Linked DNA regions of Homo sapiens: region 1 is linked to region 2. A link means that fine-mapping ties the variant in region 2 to the expression of a gene that starts in the linked region. Tissue or cell type: whole blood. Region 2 holds a variant in brackets; the other region holds the start of a gene. All regions are shown on one strand. Distances are between the middles of the regions.

What was found. PIP is the estimated chance that this variant, and not a neighbour inherited with it, causes the effect.
Region 1: it holds the start of ZFP36L1, and the variant in region 2 is fine-mapped to the expression of ZFP36L1 in whole blood (TOPMed, PIP above 0.99).

What each region holds. Positions count from the first base shown.
Region 1 is chr14:68,788,442-68,796,617 of GRCh38, reverse strand. ZFP36L1 (ZFP36 ring finger protein like 1) reads left to right here and starts at 3,551. Exons shown (of 2, transcript NM_004926.4): 1 at 3,551-3,736; 2 at 6,126-8,176. The coding sequence starts at 3,680. The coding sequence ends at 7,085. RefSeq lists enhancers at 324-383, 1,564-1,723, 1,386-1,930, 6,018-6,633, 6,741-6,820 and 1 more and silencers at 504-823, 3,104-3,303, 3,324-3,393.
Region 2 is chr14:68,731,046-68,739,221 of GRCh38, reverse strand. LOC105370547 (a long non-coding RNA gene) reads right to left here. Exons shown (of 4, transcript XR_007064227.1): 2 at 6,842-8,176; 3 at 5,083-5,276; 4 at 2,051-2,734. It also overlaps the pseudogene RNU6-921P. Among named protein-coding and RNA genes, the nearest start is that of RAD51B-AS1, 50 kb to the right of the region's middle. RefSeq lists enhancers at 1,876-2,400, 2,401-2,927, 7,933-8,176. The variant C/A (reference allele first, on the strand shown) is at 4,749.

The DNA.
Region 1 (8,176 bases), 57 kb before region 2:
CTCACTGATTCTCAAACATTAGTATTTGGGTCGTGAGATGGAAATTTACCAAAAATGCAGATTCCCCGGCCCCATCTGGGCCAGGGAATCAGCATTCCAAACTTTAAACAAGGGGACTCCAGGTGTCTCTCTCTCTTTCAACCTGAAGAATTTGGGGGATTTTGCAAATGACCTGAAGCCTGAGAGGAAGTGCAACACTGCAGGGCTCTCAGGAGGGGGTACCCTGCTGACGCCTGTGACTAGGCCTAACCTTCTGGGGTCCTGCGGCCCAGTGCTGCACACTGTCATCTGCCTTGAGGTGCGCCTGGGGTCCAGATTGGCCGATGAATACGTACACCCGCAGCGCCTCCTTCACTCCGAAGACTTTCACTTTCCCCCTTGCACAAAACCGAACATCCCACCCCACCACCACCTCCAAGCTAAAATACCTGGGCCGCCCCTCCCCACGAAGGGACGCGCTCCAGGCGAATGGGGAGGGCCCGGAAGTCGGGCCTGGGACAGAGGAGCCGGCCCACCGCCTCCCGGTCGGAAGCGGCAGTGCAGGTGAGGCGGCGGCCAGCCTGGGGACTGCGCGGGTAAGGAGCGGGAGGGCGGAATGCACCGCGAAGTTGGCGGGGGACGGCCACGCACGCCTCGCCTCGGCCTTCCTGCACCGTAGGGCCGCCCTCCCGCCACCCCTGGGCACCTGTCGACCACGTCTGGGCGAGGGCGGGTCGGCTCCCGCCCTCGGGCCCTCACCGCGGCGGGGACGCCGGGTCAGCGAAGGGTTAAGGGACTCGCTCCCTCCTCTCGGCTCCCTCACCCTTGGAAAGTCCCCGAAATGACGTTTCAACCCGACAATTTAAAAAAGAGTTTAATTATAGAGACAGGCTCTGGGAGCTGGAACAAACCCTTGGTCGGCGGGGCCGGTAAACAACTCGGGAGCGAGCGGGCTAGGCCAGTCGCAGCCTTGCGGAGCCCGCGCCCCCGGGGAGAGGGGGAGGGGAGGGCCTCCGGGAGTTGGAAAAGCCGAGGAAATTCGAGGAATCAGCTTTCTTTGGAAAAATCCACTTTGTAGCCATTCTGGGGCGCCTGATGGTGCTCCTGGCCGGTCCCGCAGCCTTGGAGGGAAAGCGGCGCCGCCCGAAGCAGGGGCATAGCCGGTGCCCCGCGGGGACAGGCCCTGGGCCGGGAAGGGGGCCCCGCCCGCTCCCAGTCCCCTTCCCCTTTGCTTTTTTCCAGCCCCTCCTCCGGTCCCCCCAGCTGAGCTTCGCGAACCCTCGGGAGTTAAAGACCAGCCGGCCTCTTTTTTGGGGGGGGTGGGGGGTGGGGGAGCGGGAATGGGTGGAGGCCGGGGGAATAAAAAACCGAAATAGCTTCACATCAGAACTCAGACTAACCTTGTGGTTTCAACGCGCACTCTGCTCTGTCCTGAAATCTGGAACTCATTACCTCATCACCAAGAAACTGCACGAAATCTCTCCCCCACCGCCCCAACACCCACTTGGGAAAGGAACGAGCAAACATCCCTCTAAGAAAGAAACCTACACTTGAATGATTTAAATTAAGGTGGATGGAAGTTATTTCCCTTTCTGGCGCTTGCCAGATTTCAAGAAAAGCTGAAAAATGGGAGCGGGGGAGGGAAGCAACAGACGGCTGGAGGGCAGCAGCAGAACAAGCGAGGGGCAGCAGCCGAGTTAAAGTGGGGGCCATCCATTTCGGGCAGAGGAGACAAATGAAAGCCGACCCCGCTGGGATCACGTAGGTTCGTGGCTGCAGCAAAAGTTGGGTTTCACAAAGTTGAAAAACAGCCGGTTTCTCAAACAATTGTGATTTGGAAGGTTTCGCTGGGTTTGCCCAGATGTTTACGAATAAATAAGAAATGCAGTTTTAAAAAAAAGTGTGTGTTGGGGGTGGTGAGAATGCGCTCTCTTCGGCCCGCCCCGTCCTTTCCAAAGAAACGTGCTCATAATGGGGTGACCTAATTACATCGCAATGGAACTCAATCTTAGCCACTCCGCAGCACCGGGTTTCATAACAGACTCGGCGGCCTCGAGTGCTGGGAAGAAACGTGCGAGGGCCGAGGGGGGCGGCGGAGCCCGCGTGGAAATCGGAAAGAAGCGCAGCCCTGCGACTTCCGCCTGGGTCATCACGCCAGCAGTCGGGCCAAGGCGCAGGGGGCGGGTGGGGGACTCGTTAACTTTTTATTTGGGTGGGCGGCATCCAAACCTAACAGTATATATTTTATCATTTTCAAGGGAGTCATGCTCCATTGCGGGCCCTTCGGTTTCGTGGCTCCCATGTCCCCCTCTCCACCTCCCGCCAAAACGGCGCAGCGTGACAAGCCATATGTTCCACTCCGGTGGGGGCGAGAGAGAAGCAACAATAAGTTAAAAGTGCCGCCTCCCTCCACCTCTTTACCTTCATTCTTACCAAAGTAACCTTTTTTCATTGTTCTAGAGTCTTGAGGTGTGTGTGGGGAGGATGGAGGAGGAGGGAGGGTTGTGGCGCCGCCCAGAATTCGGAGCGCGCGTGGAAAGTAGTGAGTTGCTCGGTGGGCTTTTTCTGGGAGGAAGGGGCATTCAGGAAGGATTAGGGTTTTCTTGACTAAAAAGTTTAAAGATTGGATGCGTGAAAAGAAACGGCACGCCTAGGCCTGGTAAAACAAACAATCGTCCCGGGTTGTGGTCTTTTTTTGCGGCGCCCCCCACCCGCCCACACCCGGAGAGCGCCGGCTGCAAAGCGAGCGCGAGTGTCGACGCGTGCGGCGCACTAAATTGTGCCGCGCTCGCCCCCGCCAGACCATGTCCTCCTGGGGAAAAAGTTTCCCTAGTCCCCCCAGCAGCGCGCCCCACCCTACGCCCCGCTGGAAAAAAAACAGCAACATAAAATCCTAGGCTTGAACATTCTGTGCGTCCCAAATTTCTAATGTCCTCGGCCTGCCCGGTTTGCCGAAGGGAGCCGAGTGTCGAAGAGAAGTCGGGAAAAGGTAAGTTGTGCAGACACTTGGGGAAGTTTCAAGGAGACCGCCAGCTCAAGATGGAAACCGCGGCCCGGGCGCTAAGGACGGGCTTCAGCTCCCGCTGGCAAAAAGAGAAAGTCGAGCCCGCCTTCCTGCCCAACAAAAAACAACAACATGACAACAAGAACCCCGGAGGGAGTGGAATGAGTGACGTCACAGCCGCGCTCTGAGGCTGACAAAGGAGGGGGCGCGCCCCTCCCGCTCTGCGCCCGCGCGGCCCCGGAGAGGGGGCGCCTGAAGCGCCGGGTAGGGAAGTCAGCCGACTTGAAACTTTTCCTCTTAAAGAAAAAAAAAAAAAAGTTGTGCGCGGCTCACAGTGGGGTTTTTTTTTTCCGCCTTCTTTTCTCGTCTCCCCTCCCCCTTCTTCCTTTTGAAAGTTTCTTCTCCTCCCCCTGCCCCCCCTCCCCGCCTGACCGCATGGCTGATTCAACTCCAGTGTCAATCAACTTCTTTTTCCTCCTCTTCCTCATTTAAATAAGTTTAAAGCTCCTCCTCCCCCCGGCCCACCAAATCTGAACTTTATAAATTGGGCTTTGCGCGCCCCAGCCCGGAGTCAGAAAGGCGAGGGGCGCCGGGAACTGGCGTGTGGGACTCCAGACAGGAGAGGCTGCGCCTTCCCCGCACCGGGACCTTCGCGACACACCAGATCCTCGCCCCTGGCTCGCGCGAACGCACAGGATGACCACCACCCTCGTGTCTGCCACCATCTTCGACTTGAGCGAAGTTTTATGCAAGGTAAAGGGGGGCGGAGCATTTGCTTTTCAAAAAGTCTTTTTCTTTTGCCTTAAGAAAGAACCCCCAAAAGTTTGGGTCTTGGAAGGCAATGGGGAAAGTGGTGCAGCGAGATGATTCTTTTCTCCTCCGGCATTTCTCCCAAGTTTGAAGGAATTTGGCCCCGTCCTTCCCACCCTTTGAGTTTCAACAGTTGCTGGCGGGGATTACATGTGAATCTGGAGGCCAGGGTTTTGAGGGGCGAAGTTTGCCTGGCAGGGCAGCCCGGGGGCTTCGGGGGGAGGGCTGGGATTGGGACAAGTTTTGGGCGATCCTGTTTTACGTAACGTGCTGCTGGATCCCAGGTTTGCTGGTCTGATCGGGTTCCCAGTCTGCGCCCTAGGTCTGTCCAGCGGCATTACCCACCCGTGGGGTTGGGAGTGGGAGGTCCCTCGGGGAAGTGAGTCTCGGGACAATGTTTTCCTCCACTCTTTGGGGGGAGCTGGGGATATGCGAGGAAGAAAGGCCAAGTTGTGATTCAAAAAGATGTTGCAGAACAAGTTTGCAGTGGGGCTTGAGTCCGCCCTAGCTCCGTTGGGCTTCTTCCCGCGATAGCCGATCGTGCAGCAAACTTTGGGGTGAAAGAGGCATTCAGGTTGACCCGCTTACCTGTGTTGCCGAGGCATTGCGGCTCATCGATTGCGGGCGGGGTTGGGGGGGGAGGTGGCGACAAAATGCTGGCTTGAACTCGAGAGTCCCGCGAGTAAGGATTTAATGGGGGGCTCCTTAAAACATGTTGCTTGTCAGCCAGTGTTGAAAAAGCAAGTTTTAAACTCGGAATGTTCCAGGACTGCGGTTTAAATGTACATAGCAAAAGTCTATGGATGTTGTTAAATTTCTTTCCAACCTCCCCCTCCCAATTTGAAAGGGTGAAGCTGCTGGGCTACTTTTTAATTGCTGAAGTGTTTTGCCTTCTCTTAACACGTCGGGTCATGTTGCTCTGTTTTCCCAGCTTGCTGCTCCTGTTGGTGCAGCTGCCAACGCCCCAGGGCTGCAGGGTTGGGGTGCAGGGACGCCGAGGAGCTGAAGAGTAGCATTTAAAAAGTTTGAATTTTTCAGCTTCCTTCCCTCCCTGCACATTCCCAAACTCCACTTGCCAGCCCGGCTGCCAGCGCTCCCCAACATTTCTTCCTTCTTTTCTCGACTCTCCCGCTCTTTGATCTATTTCTTTCTTTGGCCCCCCTCCCCCCTCACGACTTTTTAAATGAACCTCATTGTTGGGAACCAGCTCTCGACTGGGTTCCTGTAATCCTCTCGGTGGGGTGGTTGCAGTTACAGATTCCCGGTCCCCCCCTGCTGATCCTAAGGGACCAACATTAGAATTTGCACAATGACACCCACATGGGCTGGGAACTAACTCCTAGGTCCCTGACCTGCACCATTTCCAAATCTTGGGTACAATTTGGGCAGGTGACCAGGGTCCTATTGGAACAGAAACCTGCCATTGGTGGCTCTGCCCCCATCCCCACCACCCCCAATCCGCTATTGACTAGGAGGTGGGTAGGGGGGTTGGTGCTTTCCTTTTCCTTTCCATCTGCAGCTTTGCGTTAAAGATTAAACACTGGAGCTCTTATCCAAGCTTGCTCTTGCAGCCAAAAGACTAATTGCAAAGGCATCTTCTCAGTGAAGGGGGCGGGGTGGGCTAGGGCTGAGTGGAAATGGTGAGAGAGATTATTGTAGAAAATATCTCTTCCGGGAACTTAGGGCAAAGAGTTTTATTTTCAGGAATCACATCCCTGTCTCCCCCAACCTCAGACCAGGCCCCCAATCTCCTCCCCACAAGAAAAAGCAAAGGCAGTCTGAAAACCTGTTGCCAAAGGAAGGGAACACTTCTGAAGGAGGAAGTTGAGAGTCTTAGGCCAGGTCTTGAAGGAGGGGGTATCAATTAAGCAGAGACTGATTGGAAGGGGACCTAACGTAGCCTATGATAGACTCCTTTCTGAGGTTTACCTGTTTTTGTCGCGGGCGGTGGCGGGGGCGGGGTGCGGTAATCTAGAGAGGTCTGGGTTGTGTGAGATATTTTGAGTTGAAGAATCTATTTGACTAGTAAAAAAGTTGAACTTTAAAGTGGTAGCTTTGGGGACAGAGGACATGGGGGTTGCATTGCAGGAGTCAGCATGGAGCAGGGTGCTTGTCACACAGTTTGGATCTTGTGGTTTCTTACGCATGGGGCCAAAATAAACCCAGGTGAATGGCCTATGGGAGGGAGAGAGGGAAGGGAGCTTGCTAGAGCCGAGGTAGAGATGAGTTCTTTGAGAAAGAGCGGGCGTTTGTGATTGTGTAGGGGGCTGCCCATAGTGGACATCCTGGTGGATGTCCTCTGTCCTTACCATCCTTTCTCTTCTCTCTCCAGGGTAACAAGATGCTCAACTATAGTGCTCCCAGTGCAGGGGGTTGCCTGCTGGACAGAAAGGCAGTGGGCACCCCTGCTGGTGGGGGCTTCCCTCGGAGGCACTCAGTCACCCTGCCCAGCTCCAAGTTCCACCAGAACCAGCTCCTCAGCAGCCTCAAGGGTGAGCCAGCCCCCGCTCTGAGCTCGCGAGACAGCCGCTTCCGAGACCGCTCCTTCTCGGAAGGGGGCGAGCGGCTGCTGCCCACCCAGAAGCAGCCCGGGGGCGGCCAGGTCAACTCCAGCCGCTACAAGACGGAGCTGTGCCGCCCCTTTGAGGAAAACGGTGCCTGTAAGTACGGGGACAAGTGCCAGTTCGCACACGGCATCCACGAGCTCCGCAGCCTGACCCGCCACCCCAAGTACAAGACGGAGCTGTGCCGCACCTTCCACACCATCGGCTTTTGCCCCTACGGGCCCCGCTGCCACTTCATCCACAACGCTGAAGAGCGCCGTGCCCTGGCCGGGGCCCGGGACCTCTCCGCTGACCGTCCCCGCCTCCAGCATAGCTTTAGCTTTGCTGGGTTTCCCAGTGCCGCTGCCACCGCCGCTGCCACCGGGCTGCTGGACAGCCCCACGTCCATCACCCCACCCCCTATTCTGAGCGCCGATGACCTCCTGGGCTCACCTACCCTGCCCGATGGCACCAATAACCCTTTTGCCTTCTCCAGCCAGGAGCTGGCAAGCCTCTTTGCCCCTAGCATGGGGCTGCCCGGGGGTGGCTCCCCGACCACCTTCCTCTTCCGGCCCATGTCCGAGTCCCCTCACATGTTTGACTCTCCCCCCAGCCCTCAGGATTCTCTCTCGGACCAGGAGGGCTACCTGAGCAGCTCCAGCAGCAGCCACAGTGGCTCAGACTCCCCGACCTTGGACAACTCAAGACGCCTGCCCATCTTCAGCAGACTTTCCATCTCAGATGACTAAGCCAGGGTAGGGAGGGACCTCCTGCCTACTCCAGCCCCTACCCTGCACCCACATCCCATACCCTCTTCTCCCTACCCATCCCATTCCCCACAGGCCCTACATTAACAAGGTTAAGCTCAACCCCTTTCCCCCAGCACCTCAGAATGTGCCCTCCCTCTCCCCCTCATAACCCCACCTAACATAAGGACAAGTCAATTTGTCAGTAGCTTCTTCTGGCTTGAAACCCCCTCCCTGGATTTTATAGCCCACTTACCATGCATAACAGACAAGTCCCATATTTTGTCAGTAGATGCCTTTTTTTTTCCGGCTTAAGCCTTAAGTGCCAAATCACAAGAGAAAAAGCAGTAACAGTTTACAGAAGCAACTTAGTGCCTTGTAATCTAACTTTGTCACTGTGACTACATTACCTCTTCAGCGCCAGAGGGCACCCGTGGGCCTCCCGGAGCCTCTGCCCATGGCGGGGTGGAGACCCGGAACCAGCAGCCCCCTCCACTGGCGACACAACTGCACCTTCCCTCATTTCAGTCTCCCGCACACTTATTCCTCCTCCCCTCTTCCCGGTGGCACCTCTCCACCTGTACCCGCCCCCCCACCCCCCCCACCCCTGCCCCTTGGAAGAGTTGTTGCCAGACCAGGGTTTTGGGGGAAACCTGTCTTGACATTCAAAACCTTTTTCTTCCCGATCTGAACCCCTGTTGACTAATCTTGCCTGGGTTTGTGTAGGTCTGCAGGAAGGAAGGCTGAAAAAGCGGACGAAGATTTTGACTTAAGTGGGACTTTGTGATTTAATTTTTTCTTTTTTTTAAGTGGGGAGGAAGGGGAAGCTAGATGGACTAGGAGAGACTTGATTTTGGTGCTAAAGTTCCCCAGTTCATATGTGACATCTTTTTAAAAAAAATAACAACAAAAAAAAAATGAGAGAAAAGCTAAAAAAAAAAAAGTAAGGGGTGAGCAGTTAATGGTATTCATTCCACATACAATATCTGTGTAAAACGATTTCCTGTAGAAGTAGCTTTAATGGTTTTTGCTCTAGAATACCGTAGGTCTATCCTTAGAGCACTCACGCCATGCTTTCTTCCCTGGGTTTTAAA
Region 2 (8,176 bases):
TTTGTTCCATAGTAATCAATAATTAGAAAACCACCTAATCCTTCTGTCATTAGCATGTAGATGTTGACCAGGAGAGAAGTCTCTAGTAGTGGGCTGCAGGCTCATTCCTATCCAACCTCTTTAATGACAATTTATAGGGAGCAACAAAAGCACCAAGAAAGGCAACAGGATTATTGGGAAAGTGTGGGTGTCATAAATTGAGATAAATAGGCATGACACTGGGGGATGGACAGGAAGCCTGAAAGATCTCAACCAGTTCAGAGGAACCTAATCCTTGCACTTAGCCTTTGAAATTCACATGGAAACGTGCTAGGTGAAGTAGGGGTTCTCTGGAGAAAGGAGGGGTTGATCCCCAGGCAAGAGGGCACAGGGTGGTTGAGATGGAGCTTGGAGGCACTGAAGGTAGGGCACAGAGGGATTGGAGGCGCTGAAGGCAGGGCACAGAGGGATTGGAAGCACTGAAGGTAGGGCACAGAGGGATTGGAGGCGCTGAAGGTAGGGTACAGAGGGATTGGAGGCACTGAAGGTGGGGCACAGAGGGAGAAGCAGGGTGACTTGAGATGGGCTGGTCAGTGGACAGGAACCTGTCAAACAGGGTCTCAAGGGCCAGGCTAGGAAAGCTGGTAAAAGGTGCTGGGACCCTCGGTCCATTTACCCTGCATCCTATCCCTCCAGAGCTCAGGAGCCGAATGGATCTGGCTCTTTAGCACCTTGGTTCATGAATTCTTTTGGAAGATCCTAAAATGAGACAGAACTAGTTAAGTCAAGACAGCTTTGAAACATACAACCCAAGAACACCAGGACCAGAGTGGCTGAGTTTCCCAGAAGTTCATTCTGTTGAGGTTCCAACGGGGCCTTCCCCACCATCCAGTCCACCTACAGTGCTGGGCATGCAGCATGCCAGGTGGCCCCACAGAAAGACCTTGCACTGGGGGTCCTCCTGCCTGCTTGTGAACAGTGACCCTAGCAGTGCTCATGGTTAATATTGTTGTATGTCCCCATAACAATAAATTCCTGAAAAGGCTGGGGTGGGAAGATCCCAGATGGATGTGACTTCCTGGGGCTACCACGTCTGAGCCTGGTGGGATATGAGCACTGTGGACACCTCTTTTTATGCAGGGTCTGGCCTGGAGTGCAGGGTCTGTGAAGCGAGAGGACCCTGCCAGGACCCGGCCTCTGAGTGGCTCAGTGGGAGGAGGGGCGCCCTGGGTGCTGGGGGTGCCTGGTGCAGGCCCCCACTTGGCCTTCTCAGTCCCTCTCAGAGTTTGCCAGAAAGTGACACCATAGTAGACTCAATCCTTCTTCAGACCTCAATCCTGGGGCTGCAGAAATAGCTAGAGATTGGCTGGGTAAGAAGGCGGTGGCTTATATGGAAAAAGAGGCCCCTTGGCAGCTGCCCCCTGTGTTTGTGGGACTGTGTCCTGCCTCCGTCCCTAATAAGTATGATCTGCATAAGCACTTTCACCTCTTGGAGTCTCAGTTTCCTTGTCTACAAAATGGGAATAGTACCTATTTCAGGAGATGACTGTGAGGATTGGATGAAGGTGATTTTATTAAAAGGGTATCTGGCATAAGCGGTTGCTGAGTGGCCACAGTCGTTTCTCTTCTACCTGTCCTGTGGACTCCAGCACCTGGGTGTTCATGACACGCATGCGCCCTCCCCTCTGGGCAGGGGAGCCGTGCACAGAGGCTTAAAGAGCCTCCCAGGGTGGCAGTCAGAGGTGAGAGAGGGCATCAGGCCCCAGTGGAGCTGGAAGGCTCAGCCTCTGTCTGGTAATCTCCCTCCTAAATTTCAGGGGACAGAAAAGGTCCTCCTGCTCTTTGCTTGGTGTCTCCCAAATCACCTTTCCTTCCTGACGCTGGAAAAACAAATTCACAAGCACAGGTGACAGCTGCAGAGGGGCCCCTCTTTCCATATAAGCCACTGCCTGCTTAGCCAGCCAATTGCTAGCTATTTCTGCAGCCCTGGATGGAGGCCTGGAGGAGGATGAAATCTGGCTATGGGGTTGCCTCTTGACCTTACACCCATGTTCACAATAACCACACAGTCTGCCTTTCAAAAGTTTATTTTCAGGGGAGTCACAGAACATCAGGTGGAGACCCCTAGGAAGAGGAAGCAGCTGGGGTGGGCTCCAGAGGGGTATGGGTCGGGGAATAACCTCAGAGAAGAATGAGCTGTGGAGTGGTGGCCTGGCACAGGCACCCCTGTACCCCTCACCTTCCCTTGTTTCCTGCAACATGGACACCATTCCACCGGCTCTCAGGGCCCACCCGGCTGACTACATCCTTGCCACTTGGCTTCCAGGCTGCTCGGGGCTGGAGGAGGGCAGAAATCCTGAGATACTGGGTCCTGGGAGGTTGGGGGTTGGGGCATGGGAAGGGACAGAGCCAGGCTGTGACAGAGGATAGAGGGCTTGAGTGACTGATAGAACGGGTCGGGTGGGGCAGCCCTGAGGAATTTCCCTCTGAGGAGAGGGGTTCTGAGCAGCAGCCTCACTGTCCAGGGCCCAGCGGTGAGGGAGGTGCAGCCTGAAGCTTGGATTCTGGCTGCGGAGGGCTTGTCGGGCTTGCTTGCTGAGGCCCAGGGCCTCTCTGGGAATGAAGGAATGCCTCTTGCTCTGGAACACCGAGGCCTGACAATTTTCTCTCTCAGCAACATTTACTTCTCTGTAAAACAGACTGTTGTAAGTTCCTCGGGGAGCTTGTTGGATTTGGTGCCTGAGTTCACAATCTCCTGGGGTGGACAGAAGGGTTTGGTAGAAGAATTAGGTGTGGAGACGGATAGGAGAGCAACGTGGAAGTTGGCTGGGAAAAGCCTGAGGTATTCAAGTCAGGAATATTAATACCTTAGGGTTCTCTCTCTCTGTCTCTGTCTCTGTCTCTCTCTCTCTCTGTGTCTCTCTGTGTGTGTGTGTGTGTGTGTCTCTCTCTCTCTGTGTGTGTGCGTGTGTGTCTCTCTCTCTCTGTGTGTGTCTCTCTCTCTGTCTCTGTCTCCCTCTCTCTCTCTCTGTCTGTCTCTCTGTCTCTCTCTGTTGGGGTGGGAGAGATCTCTAGCTCTTAGGATCATTGCCTGTCATGGCCTAACCCTATTCCCCACTCTATTTTTGTTAACATAATTACCGTTTCCTTTGTATGATTTTTTTTTTAACTTCAGCCCAATTCCAGGCCTCCTTGTTTAAAACAAAACAAAACAGTGCTCGCTTTGGCAGTGCATGTACTAAAATTGGAACAGTACAGAGAAGATTAGCATGGCCCCTGAGCAAGGATGACACGCAAATTTGTGAAGCATTCCATATTTTTTAAAATGAAAAAGTAATAAAACAAAACAAAACAAAGCTTTCAAAACTTAACATTTCTGTGGCGTCTTCCCTGAGTTAATGTAAACAGCCATGGCGATGGGTGCTGCCTGATGGTGAAGCTCCCCTGGACTTGGGTGGCCTTAGCAACCGTTCTGCAGGTATCTCTGGGACATTCTTTTTTTTTTCTTTTTTTTTTTGAGTTGGAGTCTCGCTCAGTTGCCCAGGATGGAGTGCAGTGGTGTGATCTCAGCTCACTGGAACCTCTGCCTCCCGGGTTCAAGTGATTCTCCTGCTTCAGCCTCCAGAGTAGCTAGGACTACAGGCATGCGCCACCATACCCAGCTAGTTTTTGTATTTTTAGTAGAGACAGGATTTCACCATGTTGGCCAGGCTGATCTCGAACTCCTGACCTCAAGTGATCTGCCTGCCTTGGCCTCCCAAAGTGCTGGGATTACAGGCGTGAGCCACCATACCTGGCCATCTCTGGGACATCCTTGAGCATCCCATATCTGTCTGCTGTTGTTTGGGCCTGTCATTCTGTGCTCAGTAGATATGGCAATGTGTCATCCAATAATTGATTCCTTACCAACTTTTTGGTTTTTTTCTGAGATGGACTTTTGCTCCGTCACCCAGACTGGAGTGCAGTGGTGTGATCACAGCACATTGCAGCCTCAACCTCCCAGGCTCAAGCGGTCCTCCTGTCTTAGCCACCCTAGTAGCTGGGACTAGAAACACACACTACCAAATCTGAGGACAAAAAAAATATTTTTGTAAATGCGGGGTGTCACTGTGTTGCCCAGGCTAGCCTTGAACAACTGGGCTCAAGCAGTCCTCTCGTCTCAGGCTCCTGAGGTGTTGGGATTATAGGCATGAGCCACCGAGCCCGGCCCCTTACCAACTTTAAGTTCTTCAGTTATCTCTTGGTCTTTTCCTCTGCAGATAAGTAATCTTAATTCCCATAATTAATTTTATAACCCAATCAACACAACTTCTTTTGAAATCACTGCATCCATCTCTCCTAATTTTTTAGAGTCTCCATTTTATAATGAGTGGCTAAGCCCTGAGTACCTAGAGACTGATGAAAAGATTGCATGGTTTATCTCTGCCTCTCTGCTTAGATTCCTGTTTAATAATCATTAAATCTCTCACGTGTCACTTCTATTTACAGTATACGGAGCACCACCATGTCTCTTATCTCAGGCCATCAGCCCTTCTTAGTGATCTTATTATTTCCACTGATTCAGGTTAAGCTTGGCCTACTGTGGGCTTTATTTAGATCATCTTTATTATACCTGTGGGTAGATTTTGCAAGCAGGCCCTAGCACAGGTTCACTTGTGGGTTTCCTTTTAAAAGGTCAGTGTGAAACAGGAAATGTGACTAAGAAAATCTTCTTCCTCCATGAAGCCTCACTTCATTAACTGGAAGAAAAGCTCCTATCCTGTCTCCCC[C/A]CAAACTTGCTCATGGCCCAGACACATTTCAAAACAGCACATATTTCCCAAAACACTGACACGTGCATTCTAAGGCTCGTGTGTGCGGTGAGTGGTTCTTTGTCAAGTTCGTTCTGTGAAGGGGCCCTGTCGTCACACCGATCACTGTTCTTCAGATATCTGAGGATGTGCAGGGGCCTGAGGGACCTGGAAACCTGGTGGCTGAGCAATGAGGAGAGTGGAACCCATGGTTGGAACAGTTGGCCATCCTCATGCGGATAGGGGCAGAGCCAGAATGGGAATCAAGGTCTCCTGACTCCCCGGCCACATTAACCCAAGTAAACCCCATGTCTACCTCCTTAGCTTCCGGAGTCCCCTGCATCTTCCTCCTTGTGGGACACAAGCCAGGTACAGTTGCAGGGTGGACATGTGGTTTCCAAACAGGATGCTGGGCAAATTAATCTGGGATTCCTGATTGGGGTTCTTTAGGAGGCAGTAGTGGCTACCCTTTAGATCATCTGGTTTGTGACCTTGTTTCAGTTTTCTCATCTATAAAATAGAAAAATAATAGTACTTATGATGAGGTAAAAATAAATGAATACACATAAAACACTTAGAACAGTCTTGCTGTGTGATCACTCCATAGCATTAGTGATTATTATTCTGGTGGGTTGGTTAGCTTTCCTCCATTCTATTCAGTTCAATGGGGGTTTGGCATCAACCACAGGCTTTGCCGGGGCTGTGAAAATGGCCACATTGAGGCTCCACCTTAACCCTGGCCAGCCTCCCAACAGCCAGCCATTTGTCTTAAGAAGAGCTGAAAGAAATAATCTAATGGCGCAATGCAAAGTCAACACTGATGGGGCTGAGGGGTGTCTTTTCGGACAAGACGTGCAGTGGGGAGCCCACCTGTGAGTTGGCCTGTTTCACGGCTGCGTGCGGTGCCCACTCCTCACAGACTCTGAGTGAGTGGCAAGGTGGGCCCGGAGTCAATTCTGGCTTGGCAATGGATACTGTTACTGAGGGCATGGGTTGAGGCACAGGAGCTTGGGGCTCCAGATGCTTGGAGTAAATGTGAAAAGGGAGTGTGGGATGATGTGAGTGGGAGCTGTGGATGGGTTCAAGCGTGCTGAGTCCTGGCTTGACTCACCCTTCCAGCTTCTGCTGTAACTGTCAGTGCCTTTGTCTGCATGCTGGGAAATCCCTGAGTGCTGGGTTAAACCCCAACCCTAAAAGGCACGTAGACACTTCTCCTGAGCTTTGAGTTGCTTCATTCTGCCCAGCAGCTTCCTGAAAATGTAGTCTTGCCACACCAGAGGAAGGATAGACCCATAGCTGTGGGGGACCCTGTGTCAGCAGGATTTACTACCGGGTGAGCTGGGGCTGCAACAGCACGTGTGAGCAACTTAACAGGGCTGATGGTTTTTCAACAAATTTTTAAAAATTAAAAAAAATTTTAAATTTTTGTCGGGACATAGTAGGTGTGTGTATTTATGGGGCATGAGAGATATTTTGATACACGCATACAATGTGTAGTAATTGCATCAGGGTAAATGGGGTATCCATCACTTAAAGCTTTTATCCTTTGTGTTACAGACAATCCAATTATACTCTTTTCGTTATTTTTAAATGTACAATTCAATCATTATTGACTATAGTCACCTTGTTGTGCTATCAAATATCAGATCTTATTCATTCTTTTCGCTCTTGTCTCCCAGGCTGGAGTGCAGTGGTTTGATCTTGGCTCACTGCAACCTCCGCCTCCCGGGTTCAGGAGATTCTCCTGCCTCAGCCTCCCAAGTAGCTGGAATTACAGGCGTGCACCATCATGCCTGGCTAATTTTTTTGTATATTTAGTAGAGATGGGGTTTCACCATGTTGGCCAGGCTGGTCTCAAACTCCTGACCTCAGGTGATCCGCCTGCCTCGGCCCCCCAAAATGCTGGGATTACAGGCGTGAGCCACTGTGCCTGGCCAAGATCTTATTCATTCTTTCTAACAATTTTTTTTGTAGTCATTAACAAGGCTGAAGTTTTAATGCAACTTACTTTTATTGCACATGCCATGCATTATGCACCAATCTGTGTTCTTCCAATGCTACCGGGAACCTCTTACCTTTGTATCAGTTCATCGTTGTCCTCTTCTCCAACTGCCTGTGTACCTGGGTCAGGGGTCCTCTTTTATCGAGTGGAACAAATGTGCCCAGGTACAGAGAAATGCTTTGTGCTATTGTCCACCAGGCAGGGGCATTTTCTTTTCTCAAATATTCTTGGTAAATAGACGAGCAGTCTTTACTTGAACGCACTGGGTGTCATATGCCACAGCCCTAACTTGAATGTGCTGGCTTGCTGCAAGTGGGTGATTCCTTAGAAATTTGCTCTGTTCCTAGACGGGATCAAAATGGTCCTTAGATTCTTAATGGGTCCCTATCTGGAATCCATTTGATCTTAAAATAAAATGGCCGTGGAAGAAATTTTTCATTAATTCCTAGCTGATTTGCAATGAAATTAAATTTCTGAGTATAAGGAATATTTTTTACGGAGTAAACTTATAAGTGGGGTTGCTGGGTGTTTCCCATTGATTAGCCTAGTGTTTAAAAGTATAATGTCTTTATTTTCTGGTTTCTTACTTTTTTGAGTTCCCTCACTTTTCTTCTAGAGTTCATTATGCAGGTCTGGAAAACAACAACCACCACCACCAGCAGGAGAAAAGCAGGGGTTAGTTTGGGGGGGGTTGAAATGGGAAAAATAGACATTTCCAGCTCCCAACATCTTATTTCCTGAATATCTTCGGAGCCCAAGAAAGTGGCTCTGAGCTGCCTTTGCAGTCTTGAAGCTGCACTTGCGTTCCCACCAGCCCCCGGGCCTCTGGTTGCATCCTGGGGGGCACTTCTGCACTCCCAGCCTCCTGGGTATGGATTGGGGTGAAGATGTTGTGCAGTGAGGGGTGGGAGCCCCACACCCTAATAGAGCCAAGCTGGCCACACTGCCTGTCTTTCCCAATTAGTTCCCCAAAGGGAACAAAGCCTTATTTCTTCCCTCCCTTAGTTCCCAGGCACTGGTTGGGGAAAAACAATCCTTGGCAGCTCAGGGGTTAAAAATAAAACACAGCGAGGGGGAAAACAAGCCGGGCAGCTGCAGCGGCTCCTCAGAGCCCACTCCAGGCTAAATAGAGGCCCCAGCAACTCCTTGGAGACTTGAACCCTGGGCGATGGAATTTTCCCTTGCATGAAGGCTATTGTCCTCTGGAAAGGGCCAGGGCCAGAGGAGGGCCTGGGGAGCACTGATCTCCCCAGCCCACAGCCAGGGAGCTCCTGAGAGCCCAAGGGCTCGGTCCCACCCAGCTGGGTTTGGGTGAAAAGGCAACGGGGGGTGCAGCCCACCCCTCCCCCTTTGGGAAAAAGGGAGGGCTTGGGCTTCCAAAGGCCTGGGTACCAGTTGTTGCCCCACT